2 separate regions of the Homo sapiens genome follow, and region 1 is linked to region 2. Evidence: fine-mapped expression QTL. Tissue or cell type: fibroblasts. Region 2 holds a variant in brackets; the other region holds the start of a gene. All regions are shown on one strand. Distances are from middle to middle.

Evidence for each region. PIP is the estimated chance that this variant, and not a neighbour inherited with it, causes the effect.
Region 1: CDK18 starts here. The variant in region 2 is fine-mapped to the expression of CDK18 in fibroblasts (GTEx, PIP above 0.99).

Annotation. Positions count from the first base shown.
Region 1 is chr1:205,499,630-205,510,605 of GRCh38, forward strand. It overlaps CDK18 (cyclin dependent kinase 18), which reads left to right and starts at 5,040. Exons shown (of 16, transcript NM_212502.3): 1 at 5,040-5,167. RefSeq lists enhancers at 6,964-7,617, 10,474-10,976.
Region 2 is chr1:205,524,357-205,531,491 of GRCh38, forward strand. CDK18 (cyclin dependent kinase 18) reads left to right here. Exons shown (of 16, transcript NM_212502.3): 4 at 1; 5 at 783-839; 6 at 1,709-1,823; 7 at 2,011-2,105; 8 at 2,419-2,481; 9 at 3,438-3,561; 10 at 3,692-3,812; 11 at 4,643-4,740; 12 at 4,968-5,073; 13 at 5,165-5,207; 14 at 5,903-5,993; 15 at 6,272-6,349; 16 at 6,988-7,135. The coding sequence ends at 7,022. Among named protein-coding and RNA genes, the nearest start is that of CDK18, 23 kb to the left of the region's middle. RefSeq lists a silencer at 4,777-4,896. The variant C/G (reference allele first, on the strand shown) is at 4,859.

The sequences.
Region 1 (10,976 bases), 23 kb before region 2:
TTCTTAAGGTTTCCTGAAAAGAAAATCTACGGTTCCTATCCCTATCTATTAGTTGAGAAATAATTTCATTACATTTCACTATAATCCAAGTAGGAGTCTTTGACCCCATTCTCTAGGTGAGCAAACAGAGACCCAGGGGTAAAGAATGGGCTTAGAAAGCCCAGGTAAACCAGCTGTCTCTCCTCTCCCACCCTGCATACGGGTCCTCTCAGTGGCCCACCCCAGCCAGTGTGGCCTGCAGCCTCACCCCAAAGACTCTTCTAGTCTTGTTCCTAAGGACCACTTTCCCATTTACACCAGCTTTGTGTGGTGATTCTGTTGTCATGGCAATGCATCAACCTGAAGGGGGTGGGGTGTGTGTGTGTGTGTGTGTGTGTGTAAGTTTGGAAGGCACCGCTGGATGTAGTGGTGGGGTTCTAATTGGTTTGATAGTTGCTAGGGTCAACTGGTCTGTGATTGGCTGACTCTATTTATGGGTCCACCCTGTCCTAGAACCCTCTGGGGATGCAGCTGTTGCCTCATCTGAAGTCTAGAATGGTGTGTGTGTGTGCGTGCATGTGCATGCACATGTGTAAACACATGCATAAATGCACACATGCCTGTACTTTCACCACAAATAGCGAAGGGAGGATATGACACTTGGTGAAGTGATAAAGCAGAAAGTCCCAGGCTCTCTGCTGGAATCACACTGCTACAGGTAAATGATATTTTTCTCCTAATCATCCCCACTTCTCATAAATCACTGGAAAACAATGGCCTAGGTTTAGCCAGAGGAGGAGTAAGAATTGGCTCAGTCTAGCCAAGTCCTGCTGTCCCAATGACTCACAGACCTCTAACTAGCTAGGCCATAATGGGTCAGTCCATCTTCAGGTCTCTGCTGCCAATCTCCCTCCTGCCTGCCAAGGGCAGGCTGTTGAGGTGAGTTTCTCTGTTCTCACTTAGCTTCTCATTTCTCATGTCTTTACTTGATTCCTGGAACCCTAAAAAGGGCCCTCTGGACAAACACTAATGATCTCATACACATGCAGGTCGTTCTACAGTGTGCAAAGCACTTTCACAGTCACCTTTGCATTTAGTTCTCCCATCCTGAAAGATAGGTATTCACACTATTCCCCTTTTGCTATAGAGGAAAACAGAGGCCCAGAGAAACAAAGTGATTTCTGCACCTTAGGGGCGGAGTCAAGTCTCCGGCCTCCCAAATGTCCCTGCAGTGCTTTCAGAGACTGTGCCTGCTCGGATATAGGGCCAGAGGGGAAGGGAGCCCCTGACAATGTGCAGAAAAGAGATTCTCTGTTGGCTGAACTCTCCCTGTCTGGATGCTGTGCCTCCCAGGGGAAAGTGGGGCGGGCTTGAACTTTGGTTTTTCAGATGCTATTCAAATGCACTGCCCACACAGTCTGCGAGGGAGAGCTGTTTCCAGCTTCCCTGCTCAGCCCTCAGGCACCCAGGGACGCCTGTCCTATCTGCAGAGCAGTGGCATGTCACTGGCAGCGAGGAGGAGACAGGAGCAGAGTGGGCAGTGGGCTGAGCTGCTGCTGGGGCCACCATTGTCATGCTGCTCAGGCCTGCCAGCATTACACTGCTACATGGCTAGGGTGACCAGGGCCTCCCGGGGATGCCACAGATCCATTAGACTAGCAGAGGGGAAGGGGGCTGCAGGACCCACAGGGGATGGGCCCCAGGGGCTGGGGTGCCAGGGAAACCCCCAGCTGAGGGTCTGTTGTCTGTCCCTCTGCAAGGAGGGAGTTAATGGGCTGCAGAAAAGAGAAACAGCATTGATTGGGTGCCAAGTTTACATCCTATTGAAACCTCACAACAGCCCCATGAGAGAGGGACTATTACCATCTCCATGTTATGGACAGGAAAGGAAGTCAGATATGTCAGTAACTGCCCAAGGTCACACAGTTTACATGGCTTTAAAGCTCAAAGTATTGCTTGGTAAGGCAGCAGGGAAGGAGCCCCTCCTTAGTGGAAGTCCTAGGTAGTGCTGCTTCTACTGTGTTTGGCTTATTGCAAGATGCACAGAAAGAAAGTTGGCATCGGAGGGCAGGGGACACCAAGGGGTTCAGAGGGAATTTTTGAAATGGTACAGATGAGAAGCAGAAAAATTAGGCTGACCCAAAGAGCACACATACACAGGCCACTGATGTGTATGACTGGGTATCATGGACTCCCTATCCAGCTAGTAAGCCCTGCCCAGGGTCACTCTTATCTGGTTCCCCCCTCCCACCTCCCATCTGCACTTGCCCTTTCCTGGGGTGGCCAAAGCTTGTTGTGCCATTCTCTGGGCTCCATATAGATGCCCACCTGCAGTTCATCCTCTTCCTTCAACCCTGAGAACCAAGACGATGCTTCAAAACTGAAGCTTTCAGAGATTCTGAAGCAATCCCATGTGGTGGTGGTGGGGCAGGGGGTGATGTGACAGGCTCTGAGCAGGTGGCTGGCCCTACATCATTTCAGCTGTCATCTCTCCTCTGTGGAGCTGTCCCAAATTCTCTTGGGCAGAGTTAAGGGCTTCTTCCTCTGCTCAGCCCATATTGCCTTGGTAGGTGACTGCCTCTGCATATCTTTCTCCACCTGAACAGTGAACTACATGAGAATAGGAACTGAGACTTAAAATCATCTATCCAATGCAAGGATCCAGTATAGTCCTTGTCACATAGCAGGTGTTCAATAAATGTTTGTTGAATGCATGAATGATGGTAATTATATTTACTATCTATTGAGTTCTCCATTATGAGCCAAGTCCTATGCCAGGCCCTTAGCATACATTACCCTAATATGTACAACAACCATACAAGATTGATTTTAGCAACTTTGTTCTACAGATGGCCTCAGAAAGCTTAGTTCGCTTGCCCAAGTTCACAGAGCAATCTAAGGAGGTGCTGGGAATCAAGGCTCACTTAAGAAGCTCCAAGGTCCCACTCAGCCTATCACATCAGTGCTTCTAATCTTGACACTGTTGGCTCCCTTATCTTCTAGAATCCAATAGTCACAAGGCTCCATGACCCTGTCTCCTACCTATCTCTCAAATCAGTTCCCTCCTCTCCTCCCTGCTGCCGCTGTGTGGTCTAAGCTCATTCTCATTTTCCACTAGGATCAGCCTCCACGTTGGGGGTCTTCAGGACCCAGCACCTGCCTGCCTCTACAGTGTCACCTCCACCCCAGACTTTAAGTTCTGACCTCATGGAACTGTGGGTCCATATTCTGTCACCCCTGCACTCTGCACAAGGGATTACCCCTCCTGGAAAAAACAGGGAAAATCCTTCCTCCTCTCTCTTGTCCCCTCATCCTGTAACCCTCACCTCAAGCAGAATAGCTCCTCCCAGGCATCCGTAACACTAAGCCTCCTCCTATAGCATCCTAACTGTTTGCTTCCCTGCCGCATTACACCAAGAGCTTCTTGAAGGCAGGGACTGGGTTATACTCATCTTATGTGCCCAGAGCCCTGGCTATCATTTGGCACATAAGAGATGTTGAGAAAGTGTTTGTGGAGACCTCTTGACTTCACCCCCCTAGTTCCTTGAAATTCTACCCTTTGGCCCCACTCTCTCTAATCCGCCAGTAAACAGTTCCTTGGCCATAGTCCTTCTCCCTTTCCCTCCCTGCCCCTTCCAAACCTCTTTATGGCCTCCTGCTCCCCAGGCTTCTCACCATCCACTGGACTACAGAGCCAGGAGGTTGCTGCACACCTAAAGGCTCTGGATCCATGCACCCCGACAACACTTGGCAGTTTCATTTTTAGGAAGTGCTGTGCCCAGGAAATCTGCATGCCTTGGCAGAGAAAGCGAGGTAAAAAAAAAAAAAAGAGTTGGGAGGCCCTCTGTGAGATGTCAACTACCCACAGGTCACTTTCATGCATGGGCCCAGTGTCTTCCTTCATTCTCCTGTCTCCAGCTGACAGTGGGACCTCAGGCCCATGTCTTCCAGAAGGAAACTGTTCTATTCTCAACAACTCACAGTCCCCAGGGAAAGGGTTCAGGTAGAAGCACATGTACACTGTGGAGCACCCCCTCCTAAGGAGACTTTCCCTGTGGGAGACCCCAGACTGCAGCAGCCAAGCCCTCTGGTAGGGCAGGGGACACAGACTGCCTTGATGAGGTGCCATAGAGCCAAGGCACACCTCCTCTCCTCACAGCCCTCAGGAGGAAGCAGAGATGAGAGGGGCCTGGCGGTGGGGCACTGTGCCCTTCACCCCCATCCCCAGATTTTTGTTTTGTTTTTTTTTTTGATCCTTGAAGTCAGATGATGTGGGTGCAATGGCCATTGGCCTGAGTTCTAATCATGGCTCGCCATGAACTCTTGTGGCACTTTAGGCCAGTTCAATTGCTTTGCTGGGCCTCAGTTTCCCCTTCTGTAAAATGAGAGTGCCACTAGCTGAACTAGCCATTCTGTAACCCTTCTTGGATGATTCTCAAATATCCTGTGGAGTTTAATTCCAAAAGGACAAGTTGAATTATCCTTCGGGGAGGGAAATGTGAATGATGGCTGGTAACAAGGGCTTCATTCAGGTCCTGGAGAGGTGGGAACTTTGTCCGGAAAGGTAAGTGACAAGTCCCACTGGATAGGGTAGAAGGGGAGCCCGAGGGCTACTATTGTCAAGAAAATGACCACCAAAATCTGTCCATGCACATTCGTTCCTAGGGCGCCAGGTACAGGGAGGTACCTAGGAGAGGTAGGAGCACCGCTTTTAGAGACAGGCAGGCACTCTCAGTGTACCCCTGGCGCCTTGGTGTCCTGGGGTGATCCAGTCCAGAAGGCCTCATCCCCTAGCCAAGGCTCTCAGGGCCGGTTTTAGAAACGAAACAGGAAGAGGCACTTGGACCCTGGTTCCCAGAGTGGGAGAAAGGGGTGGGCACCCGGGCAGAGGGAGCCCTGGGGATTGGTAGCGGCTGTGGGCAGGGCGGGAGGGCCGGGGGCGGAGTCAACTTGTACATGTGAAAAACTCTGGCGGGGGCCGGGCATTTTCCTTCCTCCTCCTCCTCCTCCTCCTCCTCCCTCCTCTTCCCCACCTTCCTCCACTCCCTCCCTTCCCCTCCCCTTCTACCTCCTCCTCGGCCAGCTCAGGTTGCAGCTTCTCTGGGGAACTGCTCACCTTTCCGGAGCAGGGGAAGCTGCCCCGTGCCCGGGAGGGAGCGGGCGCACCGCGGCCCCCAGGACACGCGCTGTGAGTCCCGCGGGCGGTGCGCCTGGGAGGAAGGGGGAGGTCGGAGGAGCGGGCACCGCGGCGCCGGGTATAAGGAGCAAAGGTAAGCGGAACGGCTCTTAAAGGCGCAGTTTTGCTTTTGCCCTGAGGCGAGAGGTTGGAGGGAAATACCGGAGCGGCGAGGGGAGAGCAGAGATCACGAGGCGTGATCTGTGTGATACTGTGTTGTGTGTTGAGGGGTGGGGGGTGCCCTCGAAAGGCCACTCGTAAGTTCCAGGTGCTTGAGAGGGAGGGTTATTTTGCAATCTCAGACCCCGCGCCCCCTTAGGGAGTCTCCATCTGGGATCACTTTGGCCCCTGGGCTCCCGTCTGAACCCTACAAAGCAAAGTTTTCCACCCAGTCCGGAACCAGGCGCTTTCTAAGCTCCCTTCATTCTGGGAAGGGCAAGGGTCAGGAGTCTCCAGGGACCAAAGGACCCGAGAGTGTGGGGCCACATCGCTGCCTTGAAGGGCTTCCTGGGCTCTGGTGAACTTTCCAGAGCGGCAGGCAGGGGGTGGGAGGCCGGAGCCCTGGGAAGAACGTGGAAGGACACGTGAAGCCCTGCAGGTCCCAGTTCTGGGGGAGGCAGGGGTCTGGGGAATGCTGCTGCTTCTCTCTTTCCACCCCGGAAGACCAAAGGGGCAGTGCCCCCCTCCACCCCTCATCAACAGGCGACAGAGGGTTAATGCAGCAGAGGGAAAGGAGGCTGGGTGGGGCCGGGGGGAGTGGGCGGTGACCTGTTGGGCTAAGGAGATGTGCCTTGAGGATTCTGCTGTAGTTGAGGGACACCATCAGGAATCTGAAATCCAAAATCGGGTCTGGACTGGAGGCCTCTGTTTTCGCCCTGTGGGGGGCGGGGATTCCCTGAAGGTGTCTGCAGACCTTGTGCTGGGTGGGAGTTGGGCTGCAGAAACAGTGAGGGGTTTTCTGTGCTGCAGGGTCAGCACCCTCCTAGGCACCAGCCCTGCCTCTCTTCATTCTCTCTGGGCACCTCCCGGCAGTCGGGGTGGGAGGATTGACACTGTGGGAGTGAGAGGCCCTGGAACCTCTTCCGCGCTATCTGCTACTGTCTCCCCTTCTTCCCCACCCCTAGCCCAGCCCTCGGCAGTTCCCCAGCTGTAGCCTGGGCCCTGTGACTCACTAACACCACCGGCTTGCCCCTCCTGTGTCAGCACCCAGTGAGCTTCGGCATGTTCGCGTGGCATTCCCCACCCGGGCATGGGCATGCAGCACATTCCTGGACACGGGCCTGAGAGGATGCCTGGAGCGCCTGGTGGACTGGCACGTCCTCAGAGATCCCCTGCCTTTAGCCTGGCCTTGGGAGGGGCCTGGGAAAACGGTGCTGAGGGTGCTGAGGGTCGGTGGAGTACAGGGCGACACTGGCTCCAGGTCCGGGTTTGCATCCTGAAGGCGTTCCAGAGAGAGGGTCACCTTGCCACAGCAAAGCTGCTATCTCGGGTTACCCTTTCCCAGCCACCTCTTGTGCAGCTGAGGAGGCTGTGGGGCTGACCCCTCCCCCACCCTTAATCTGGGGTGTACCTGACCATTGGGTTCCCAGGACTCTCCCCACTGGGTCCCCAGGACTCTCCCCATACCCTGCCAGGAGAATGGAAGAAGCTCTCCACGCGTGCCAGAAGAAGTTCTTCCCAAACTTATCGGGGGTGCCAGAGGCAGAGTAGACAAGCCTTAGTGGCCACCATTTGTTGAATATCTACTGTGCGCCAAGCAGTGCGTCACAACTTTATGAAGTAGGTATTATTATCATCCCCATTTTACAGGTGAAGAAACTGAGTCTCTGAGAGACCAACTTTTCCAAGGTCACACAGAGGTGGGATCCAGCCCACTTCCGTCTGACCCCAAGCCCCTGCTGTTAACCCCTGCCCCATTGTGGGGAGGTTCCGGCCCACTCTGGAGTTCTCTGGTCTGCGTCAGTCCTCAGGAGAAGAAAGAATGGGGGTGATGCTCCAAATATTGAGGCTCCCATCTGTCTGTCCTGCACTAGGCAGAGCCAGGCTTCTCCATGGGGCACAGGAGAGAGGGCACCAGATCTGAGGAGCAAATAGGTTCTTGGTCTGAGATCTCGTGGGATCAGGTTGCCAGCCCTGCAAACCCCCGCTCAGGTCTAGAGGACATGGAGCTGCCTTTCAGGGTGCATTTGCTTCCTCTACAGACTCGGACTCTGTCCTCTGCCTACTTGGGCCGTCCCGCACTCGGGAATGCGTCCTACACTGTAGGGCAGAGCCCGGCTTGACTCTTCCCGGTTCCTACCCTAACCAAGCCTCTACTTTCTGGGATCACCCTGTTGGGACTTTTGTCCAGCATCTCCATCTACCTGTCCTCTGATTCCTTCTGTTCTTCTCTAACTGAGCTTGAGAACTAAAGGGGAGGGCAAACTTCTGGCCTTGGTGGAATCCAGCTCCAGCATATAGTAGCTATGTGACCTTCCCCTCACTAGCACACTCGTGAATTTCTCCCAGCATCCGTTCCCTCATCTGTAAAATGAGGATCATAATAGAGGGCTGTTATAAGATTTAGGCTGGGTGCGGTGGCTCACGCCTGTAATCCCAGCACTTTGGGAGGCCGAGGTGGACGGATCACGAGGTCAGGAGATCGAGACCATCCTGGCTAACATGGTGAAACCCCATCTCTACTGAAAAAAAAAAAAAAGCACAAAATTAGTCAGGCGTGGTGGCAGGTGCCTGTAGCTACTCGGGAGGCTGAGGCAGGAGAATGGCGTGAACCCGGGAGGCGGAGGTTGTAGTGAGCCGAGATTGCACCGCTGTACTCCAGCCTGGGCGACAGAGCGAGACTCCGTCTCAAAAAAAAAAAAAAAAAAAAAAAAAAAAAATAATGCACAGTGCCTGGCATGTAGCAGAGACTAAATAACTGGTAGCTATAGTGGTTGGTGGTGCTTGTTTGGAAAGGGAATTTCCTGGTGATTGCACCAGGGCTGGTCTAGAGACCAAGGTAGATTTTCCCAGCCCCATCAGGCCAAGCCCTTAGTTAGACAGAATCTTTACTGCTCTTCCAGGTTAGGGAGGAGGGCTCTGTGTAAGAGAATGGTGGTGGTGGTAGGGGAATGGGTTGGATGGAAATCTTCCAGGAGGGGCCAGGAATCTGTGCTGTGGGGGCCCTACCTTCTGGCAGTTATGAATGAGGCAGGCACTGGGAGCTGGAGAGGCAGCAGTCTCTTGCTCTGAGGGCCCTCTGGCAGCGCCTTCTTTCCCTGAGGTAGGAGGACCCTCCCCTGGTACTTAATTAATTGCAGTCCCTGTTCTGCTCTGTTGTTCAGGGTGAGTGGCTGGCCTGGTTCCAGGCCCACCTGATTAGCCCACCTTTGGCAATAAGTCACATTTCTCTTCCTCGGCTCTGTGTCCCACCATAACCCCTTACGTCCCCTTCCCTGGACTTTTCACCTTTGCCCTCCAGGCATTCCCTGCTGAGTGGGCACTTTCCCACATCCAGGGGGTGGGAGCAGACCAAGGTTAATCTTGTCCTGGCTCCCACAGCTGCTTACACACACACAGCTGCATGCACATGCACACACAGGCTGGGCTCACAACAGCTCAGGCCAAGGGTCTGGGATCCAGGATCACTACAGAGCTGGTAGCTGGGCCTGGCTGGAGCTGGCCAGTGGTTCAGCAGCAAGTCTGGAAGAGGAAAAGCCGTGGGCGCATCTCCGCCAGACCTCCTGTCTGAAAGAGAGCCCATCTGCTCCTAGAATCTCCACAGCTACATCTGCAGAGGAGGAGGGGTAGTGAGGCAAGTGTGAGGTTTGGTTTTAAACTGAAAAGGGAGGTGGGCGGATTGCTTGAGCCCAGGAGGTCGAAACCAGACTGGGCAACATGGCAAGACCCCATCTCTAAAAAAATACAAAAATTAGCCAGGTGTGGTGGCACGCGCCTGTAGTCCCAGCTACTCGGGAGGCTGAGAGGGGAGGATCGCTTGAGCCTAGGAGGTTGAGGCTGCAGTGATCCATGATTGCATCACTGCACTCCAGCCTGGGCAACAGAACAAGAACTTGTCAAAAAAAAAATTGAAAAGGGTCTTAGGCCGGGTGTGGTGGCTCATGCCTGTAATCCCAGCACTTTGGAAGGCCAAGGCGGGTGGATCACTTGAGGCCAGGAGTTTGAGACCAGCCTGGCCAACATGATGAAACCCTGTTTCTCCTAAAAATACAAAAATTAGCTAGGCATGGTGGCGTGTGCCTGTAATCCCAGCTACTCGGGAGGCTGAGGTAGGAGGATCGCTTGAACCCAGGAGGTGGAGGTTGCAGTGAGCCGAGGTCGCACCACTGCACTCCAGCCTGGGCGAGAAACAAAACAAAACAAAACAAAAAACGGGTCTTGAAGCAAAGCTCCCTGACAGCATGAGTAACCCTGAAGAGACTGGACACCTTGCTCTGGGAGACATGGGCCAGAACTTTTGAAAGGACTATGATGAGATCCTCTTTCCTGGAGCTCTTGATAATGGTCCCACCCTCTGAGCCTCCCTACCCCCACCATTAAATAAAAGTCTTCCCTAGAAATGGTGGAGTCGGGATAGACAAGATGACCCAATAATGGCTGGCTGGTGCACTCATCATTATTTATATGTTGAGTGTATGTCTCCTGTCCACCATGGGTGGAGGCAATTTATGGACTTTGGGGTCAGTTCAGATTCTGCCTCTTCCACTCAGTAACTGGTTGCCTTAGGTTAAGTAATTTGCTCACCCAGGTTTCAGTTTCCTCATTTATAAAATAGGAGGATAATACTATTATCTCATGTGATTGCGAGGACTCCAGTGAGATAATGTCCACCTAGTAGCTCTTTGCTTTACCTGATGTCATTATCAAGGGGTGGTGGCAGAGTTAATGGGCTACATTTGGTAGTTCTCAGTGCCTTTGGCCCCACTTGATATTTTTTTCTGAAATCAGGGTCCCTGCAAACATCAGGGATCAGCCCCCAAATTGGGAAGAGAACTCTATTCTTAAAATGTTTCTGGCCAGGCACAGAGGCTCACACCTGTAATCCCAGAACTTTGGGAGGCCGAGGTAGGTGGATCACCTGAGGTCAGGAGTTCAAGACCAGCCTGGCCAACATGGCGAAACCCCATCTCTACTAAAAATACAAAAATTAGCCAGGCATGGTGGCAGGCACCTGTAATCCCAGCTACTCCAGAGGCTGAGGCACGAGAATCGCTTGAACAAGGGAGGCAGAGGTTGCAGTGAGCCAGGATTGTACCACTGCACTCCAGACTGGGTGACAGAGCAAGACTTTGTCTCAAAAAAAAAAAAAAAATTTCTACCCTCCCTCACTCTGAACACTGTTCCCCATCTTATCATTATCGAGGGAAATTCAGAGCTCCAGAATGATTACTGCCCTCACACCTTGCTTCCCTAAAGAAGCCTGCCCTTTTCTGCCTGGGGAGTCTCCTCAGGAACCAGACCTTCTTCTCTTCTCTGGCCCCAGCCACCCAGCACCCTGGGCTGCGGGGTGACCAGCCCAGGAGGTGACAGGGCTGTCCTTCCCACATCCTGGCAGGACCCACTGCCTGGAAGCAGGTGGGCGGTAGGTGTTATGCTAGAGGGCATCACTCTTGACAAAGCAGCACTGGCTCCCAAACTCTGCCTGCAACATGGGATGAGCCCAGGAAAGGGGTCACAGAGCCCCTCCCTGATCCTGCCGTGGAGCCCAGCTGGCAGCATCCCCTGCCGTGGCTGGGCTGGGTGCCATGTTCTGTGTGGGTGCCAAACCTGGCATGGCTCCTTCCCAAGGAAGGTGGCCCTTGGGGATGCTGTGACTTTCTTG
Region 2 (7,135 bases):
GGTGAGTCCCAAGAGGGTCAGAGGACACAAGGTGGGGTGATATGCCCTCCCCAGCATGGGCATATCAGTCCCAGCTGAGGCCTAGATGGGATTTCGAGGAAGATTCCTGGGCCTCTGGTGCCACCTGCTGGCTTGAGTGCATTCAACTAGCTCGTCCTCCTACATCAACATCCATTTCCTAGATGGGTCTCACTTGGGCTGGAATGGGACTCTAAGCCCACAGTGGGTCCCACGGTCTCCACATGGTTAAGATCAATAGGCCAGCTGGCATGTGCCTTCCAGTCCTAACTGCCTATCAGAGCTGTTTGGGACATCTTACAAAACACAGACTCTACCTCCAGACACCTATAGAATCAGCCTCTCCGGCTAGGGGGTCCAGGAATCCGTCTTGTTAAGGGTTGGATACACCTGAGCTAGAAGTGCGCTGATGAGAGACACAGTCAGAGAGGTGGATTCTGAACTGGACACTCAAGGTACAATGGGAAAAAAGGCAGCACTCACTCTGGAGGAGCTCGTGGTCTCAGTCGGAGACACAGGTAGTCAAGATGTGCAACAATCCCAGGTGCCACAGCTCTGGGCTCTACACTCTTGGCTGTCCTGGGAGGAAGAAACTCACACTTTCACGAGCTCTGTCCTTTATCACAGGGATAAAGGGAAAAGGAGCCCCTTCCACCATGGAGTCTCATCCCTTCCCTCCCAGAGGCTGGAGTTGGGGGAGGCGTCATGTCTGTGGAGCTGCTAAGGGCTTCAAGCTCACGGCATTCTATGTCTCTCCCTCTCAGTCAGACATTGGCTTTGGGAAACTGGAAACATACGTGAAACTGGACAAACTGGGAGAGGTAAGACGCTGGGTTTGGTCTTCTCCGAATAGCCAGGCAGGATGGCTTGGAGGAGGGGCAGACCTCCCTAGTCGGCCCTCTCTGGTCGGCCCTCTCTGGTTGGCCCTCTCCTGGCCCCTGCCCCATAGAGGTGCACAGTCTTGGCTGTGCGCTCTGGCCCAGGCTTTGGCAGGGATTGAAGTGAGCTCAGATCCTGAAGGAGGGCGTGAGGATAGAGTAGCCATGGCCCTGGGCAGAATCCAGTCTTTTTTTTTTCTGCAAGTCCTTCTTGCCTGGGTTCAAAACCTAGCTCCACCATTTACTAGCTCTGTGACCTTTGGCAAGTTACATGACCTCTCTGTGTGCCTCAGTTTCTTCCTCTGTCCAATGAGACAGTAATTGTCCTATCACATAGGGTTATTGTGAGGATTGGGCAGGTTACTGTAATCAGCTTATGTACGGCACACAGACAATGCCTGGCACATAGGAAGTGCTGTGTCACTTAGCTATTTTTGTTGTCACTGTGCAGAGGCCTGGGGTGGGTGAAGGTTTATAGAGAGAGGGAACACACAGCCCTTTCCCTCCAGGAGCCCAAAGAGGTGACCTCTGTGTAAACATCAGCATCGTATAAGGAAGAAAAAACCTGGTGTTATCATAGACGGGCACGCGGCGTGCTGGGGCTTAGAGGAAGGACGGATTCACTCCGACTGGGGAGTCATTAGGGATGCTTCCTGGAGGAAGTAGGCTTTGGAGGAAACAGCATGTCAGTAAAGGGAGGAAGGGCACTCAGGCCCCAGTCGTAGCCCAGGCAGAGGCACAAATGGGGAGGCACTGGACAGAGGCCAGCAGCACCTGAATGCGCCTGGGGCCGCTGTGGCCCTCCATCCCAGGGCACCTATGCCACAGTCTTCAAAGGGCGCAGCAAACTGACGGAGAACCTTGTGGCCCTGAAAGAGATCCGGCTGGAGCACGAGGAGGGAGCGCCCTGCACTGCCATCCGAGAGGGTACAGCATCCTAGGCTCCCACGCTCCCCTGGGGGCTTCAGGAGGAGGGGTTCACCAGCCTGCACCCTTGTGGGAGCTGGGGGTAGAGGATCATTGCTGGAATGGGACTCCTGGCGCTGACCCCAAGAAAAGAGGGTATGGGGACACATGGGGTCCTAGGGACCCAGGTGGATCTGTCTCCTCACAGTGTCTCTGCTGAAGAACCTGAAGCACGCCAATATTGTGACCCTGCATGACCTCATCCACACAGATCGGTCCCTCACCCTGGTGTTTGAGTACCTGGTGAGAGTCCGGCTGGGGCTGGCCGCCTCTCCCTCTTGTGGTGGAAACGGGGTGTGGGTAGGGGAGTGGGAAGCTGAGGGAGTGGGAGTAGTGGGATGAGGGCGACCCAGGCCTTGTTCTGGAATCAGATTTTCAGATGCTCCCGTGCAGGAGTGGGCCAAGAGCTCAGGCTTACGGGTGGCTCGAGCCAGGGACCTGTCCCACTAGTGGGCGTGGGCCCTTCCCAGGGAGGGGCTTCCTCTCCTCAGCCTGTGTCTGGGCTTCTGGCCAGGGGTCAGCGTGGGGCAGGACTGAGCCACGCTCTGTGTTCCAGGACAGTGACCTGAAGCAGTATCTGGACCACTGTGGGAACCTCATGAGCATGCACAACGTCAAGGTGAGGCCTCGGGGGCAGGGTCCCCCCATCTTGGCAGCCACCTGTCCAGAAGCCCAGTGTGGGGACCCACTCTCACCACCAGGGATCCGGCTGCTGAGGTGGCTCAGACCTTCCCACGTAGGAAAGAGGGAGAGGGCAATGCCATCAACGAGTCCAGGAACTGGGTTGAGCGCTTTACCCCAAGAACAGACACACACTGTCTGCCACTGTCTAGCTGTTGGTATAAAACCCACTCTCAACTCTGAACATCAGTTTCCCAGTCTGTCAAATGGGAGTGTGAGCTACCTGCCAAAATGCAGGGAGGCTTCTGGGGAAGCTCGGGGTTATGAATGACCTCTCCTGGTGTTTGTTAAAGAATCAAGGCTGGGCATGGTGGCCCACGCCTGTAATCCCAGCACTGGGAGGCCAAGGCAGGAAGATGGCTTGAGCCCAGGAGTTTGAGACCAGCCTGGGCAACATGGCAAGACCTCATCTCTACTAAAAATTGAAAAATTAGCCGGGCACAGTAGCGTGCACCCATAGTCCCAGCTGCTTGAGAGGCTGAGGCAGGAGGGCCACTTGAGCCCGGGAGGTTGAGGCTGCAGTGAGCCATGATCACACCACTGCACTCCAGCCTGGGTGACAGAGTAAAACCCTGACTCTAAAAGAAAAAAAAAAAAAAAAGGGATCAAGCACATATGTCTCCACATAGGCGGGCATCCTGACCCCCGTGCTCCTGACTGAGACTTCGCTGGCCTCCCCCACACTCACTGCGTCCTCTGCACCCCTGCTGTCCTCCCCTCTGGATGGGATTCCCTGGTGTGGGTGGGGTCCAGGATGGGGGCTGCAGGGTGTGCAGGAGAATGAGGGGCTTGTGCTGACCTCACTGCCAAGCCCCTGCCCCCATCCTGGTCCCAGCCTTGGAGCAGAGGCTCAGGGCCACCTTCCACCCCACATTTCTCTTCCCCCTCCCCCAGATTTTCATGTTCCAGCTGCTCCGGGGCCTCGCCTACTGTCACCACCGCAAGATCCTGCACCGGGACCTGAAGCCCCAGAACCTGCTCATCAACGAGAGGGGGGAGCTGAAGCTGGCCGACTTTGGTGAGGCTGGGGCTAGGGTGGGGGTCTGACGCTACTGGGGTGCCTCAGGGTGTGGGTGCAGTGGGGGAGGGCATAGCAGTCAACCCCACAGCACCTGTGGACAGAGGTCCAGTGACATGTCTGCCCCCAGGACTGGCCAGGGCCAAGTCAGTGCCCACAAAGACTTACTCCAATGAGGTGGTGACCCTGTGGTACAGGCCCCCCGATGTGCTGCTGGGATCCACAGAGTACTCCACCCCCATTGATATGTGGTGAGTGAGCACTGTGGGGACCGAGGAGGGGAGGACAGGCCTGGCCACACCTCCAGACTCTCCTTTGCTTCCCCAAGGGCCTCGGGGAAGAACTGCCTAACTTCCTTTGCCTAAAAGCCTTGTGACATCCTGCTGAAATGGATGTTAAAAAATTAGGTCTGAAATATAATAGGTTAGGGTTTCCCTGGCTTAAATAGACCCCCAAGCCTGTGCATTTGAAATCCTCCCCCAGAGGCCTGTGGGGGGTTACCAGAGACCCAGAGGGTCCAGGAGGGCCCCTATAGTAAATACGATGAATCTTCCCCAAGCATCAGTCCCAGTGAAAATTTTGAAAGAGAAGTACTATTTTTATGTTAAAATGAACAAGTGTATGATTTGGTGTAAAATGAAAAATCAGCCCAAATTGCAAGCCAAGCCGCCGGTGGTTATGAATGGCTGCTGTGACTCCGCCCCAAGGTTCCCCAGGAGAATGGATTTATGTACTTCTCTTCCAGTGGGGCACACAGTGGAGAGAGTTTGAGACAACACTGCTGAGAGAATTGCCACATGGGCGCTGGCTGCACAGACCCAAACCTCACAGAGTGAAAGGGGACTTTCCTCACAGAGTGAAAGTCGCAGCTTTCCCGAGCCCAGGGAAGCCCCCCAGAGAGGGGCTGTAGTGGGGGCTGGGCAGTTCTAGGAGCCTCCACTGCCCTGGGCCACCCCTCCGCCGCCAGAGCCACGATCCCTGCAGCCGCCTGTGGCAGGTCGTCATTGGTGCCCTGGTGGAGCAGCCCTAGGAAGGGCGGCCGCCCCTGCCTGATGCCGACCCTACCCCTTGCTCCTCGCAGGGGCGTGGGCTGCATCCACTACGAGATGGCCACAGGGAGGCCCCTCTTCCCGGGCTCCACAGTCAAGGAGGAGCTGCACCTCATCTTTCGCCTCCTCGGTCAGTCTCCCGCTGCTCCGTCCCTCTCACCACCAGGGGGCGCCGGAACTCCTCCAGCCCAGGCGCGGAGCGGGACGGGGAGGAGCGGCTCGGCCGCCTCTCTCCCGGGCGGGGACCC[C/G]CTGTGGCCTCGGCCATCTTTGCTCCCACCTCATACATTGCATCCCTTTCAAGTCGGCCTTGGCCCTGGGCCTCACGCAGGCCCTCCCCACCCTCTCTCGTCTCCCCAGGGACCCCCACAGAAGAGACGTGGCCCGGCGTGACCGCCTTCTCTGAGTTCCGCACCTACAGCTTCCCCTGCTACCTCCCGCAGCCGCTCATCAACCACGCGCCCAGGTAGCCCCTGCGCCCGCCGCCCCTCCTGCTGCGGCCCTGGCTCTCCCATCCCCAATCAGGCACAGCCTGTGTCCGCGCCTTCTCCTTGCAGGTTGGATACGGATGGCATCCACCTCCTGAGCAGCCTGCTCCTGGTGAGTGTCCTCCCGGCGGGGCCCAGGGAGAGGCAGCCAAAGAGCCAGGTCCCTGTGCCCCATGCCGGGCCTACGCCCCAACTTCTGTGGCTCGTGTGCTTACACGTCTTTGAAACATCTCCCCTGTACTCTCCACCCCCAAGGCCAAGGGGTGGCCTCCATACACATCCTCTGGAGTCTGTGCACTGCGAGCCCAAACCCGTTACTTAGCTGTGTAGCTCTGGGCAAGTTACAGAGCTCCTCCATGCCTCAGTTTCCTCAGCTGCAAAGTGGGATTAATACCTATTTTATAAGATGGCCGTGAGGATACATTGAGATGACGGGACACACTTAGTGTGGTGCCTGTCTTGTAAGGCACACGATGAAGGGTTGTTATCGGCACTACGCTTCCTGTTACGGATGTTCTCCATCTGATCATGGTTGGTTTGCATCTGTATTTCTATCCCAAGAGAAGGTCACTCTCCTGAAGTTTCATTTCTGGTTTTTCCTGGTGGCTGGAGACCGAGGAGCCTTCCCCTGAGTCTTGAGATGGCCTGAGGTTGGGTTTGTGGTAGGGGCTGGAGGCTGACCTGGGGCTTCTCCTGTTAGCCTCAAGCCTCACCCACCTTGGTGCTCTAACCAGCACTGGAGTCCTGCTGCCCAGAGGGTTTGCAGCCCCCCAGCCGGGCCCAATAGCCCCACCCTGTGCCTTTCAGTATGAATCCAAGAGTCGCATGTCAGCAGAGGCTGCCCTGAGTCACTCCTACTTCCGGTCTCTGGGAGAGCGTGTGCACCAGCTTGAAGACAGTGAGTACTGGGGGTCCGGGAGCAGGGCCACCCAGAACCAAGGAAAGGGGTTGGTGAGTGTGGGCAGAAGAACCAGAACAAAGAGGCCAGAGGCCCCAGCCCCAGCAGAGCAGCCCCGGGCACCTTGCCTCCCCTGCTGGGGTTCTCATTCCAAATTGAGGGGGCAAACAGTGGAAATGAGACGCTGCCTCGAGGGCTCAGTTGGTCCTTCTGGGCCAGTCCTTACTGGAGGCCAGCTCCACGCAGCCCTCTCCAGACTATGCACTTCTCTCCCCCAGCTGCCTCCATCTTCTCCCTGAAGGAGATCCAGCTCCAGAAGGACCCAGGCTACCGAGGCTTGGCCTTCCAGCAGCCAGGTAGGGGCTTGTGCTCTCCTGGACCCCTCCCCTTGTTAGTGGAAGCCAGAGCAGGCGACCCCTCCCCAGTGGGGACTCCCATGGTCCCCCCACCACTGGCTTCCCTTTGGACTCTTTGGGGAGCAGAGAAGGGGTTGGTTTCTCCTGCCTAGACTTCCTCGTCCAGCTCTTCCCTCCTCAACCCTCCACCCCAGACAGGACATTGCATTTGACAGTAGCCCTGGCAAAGAGGCATGCTGTCTCTGGTGCATTCTCTCTGCAAACCCTGAGCTCTCTAATCAGATTCCATCCTGGGAGAACGGTACTTTGTTCCTAGAACAGTCAATGGCCTTGGACATTGACAAATGCTTTCCATGCATCGTCTTCTTTAATCCTTAAAATACCCCTTGAAGCTAGTACTATTAATATTCCCCATTTCATAGTCAATGAAACTGAGGCTCTGGGAGGTTAAGTCACAAGTTCATGCAGCTAGTAAGTAGCAGAGATGGGATTTGACACCAGGTCAGACCGGCTCCTGTTTGCATGCCCTTGCTTGCTCTGTCAGAGCAGCTCTGGGGGACAGCGACTGTCCCTGCTGACCTGGGGTACCCGTCAGCCCAGCCTCCTCCCTGCAGCCCCACCTCTTCTCCATTCTCCAGGACGAGGGAAGAACAGGCGGCAGAGCATCTTCTGAGCCACGCCCACCTTGCTGTGGCCAAGGGACAAGAGATCACATGGAGCACAAATTCGGGTAGGATGGAGCCTGTGTGGCCCTCGGAGGACTGAAGAACGAGGGCTGACAGCCAG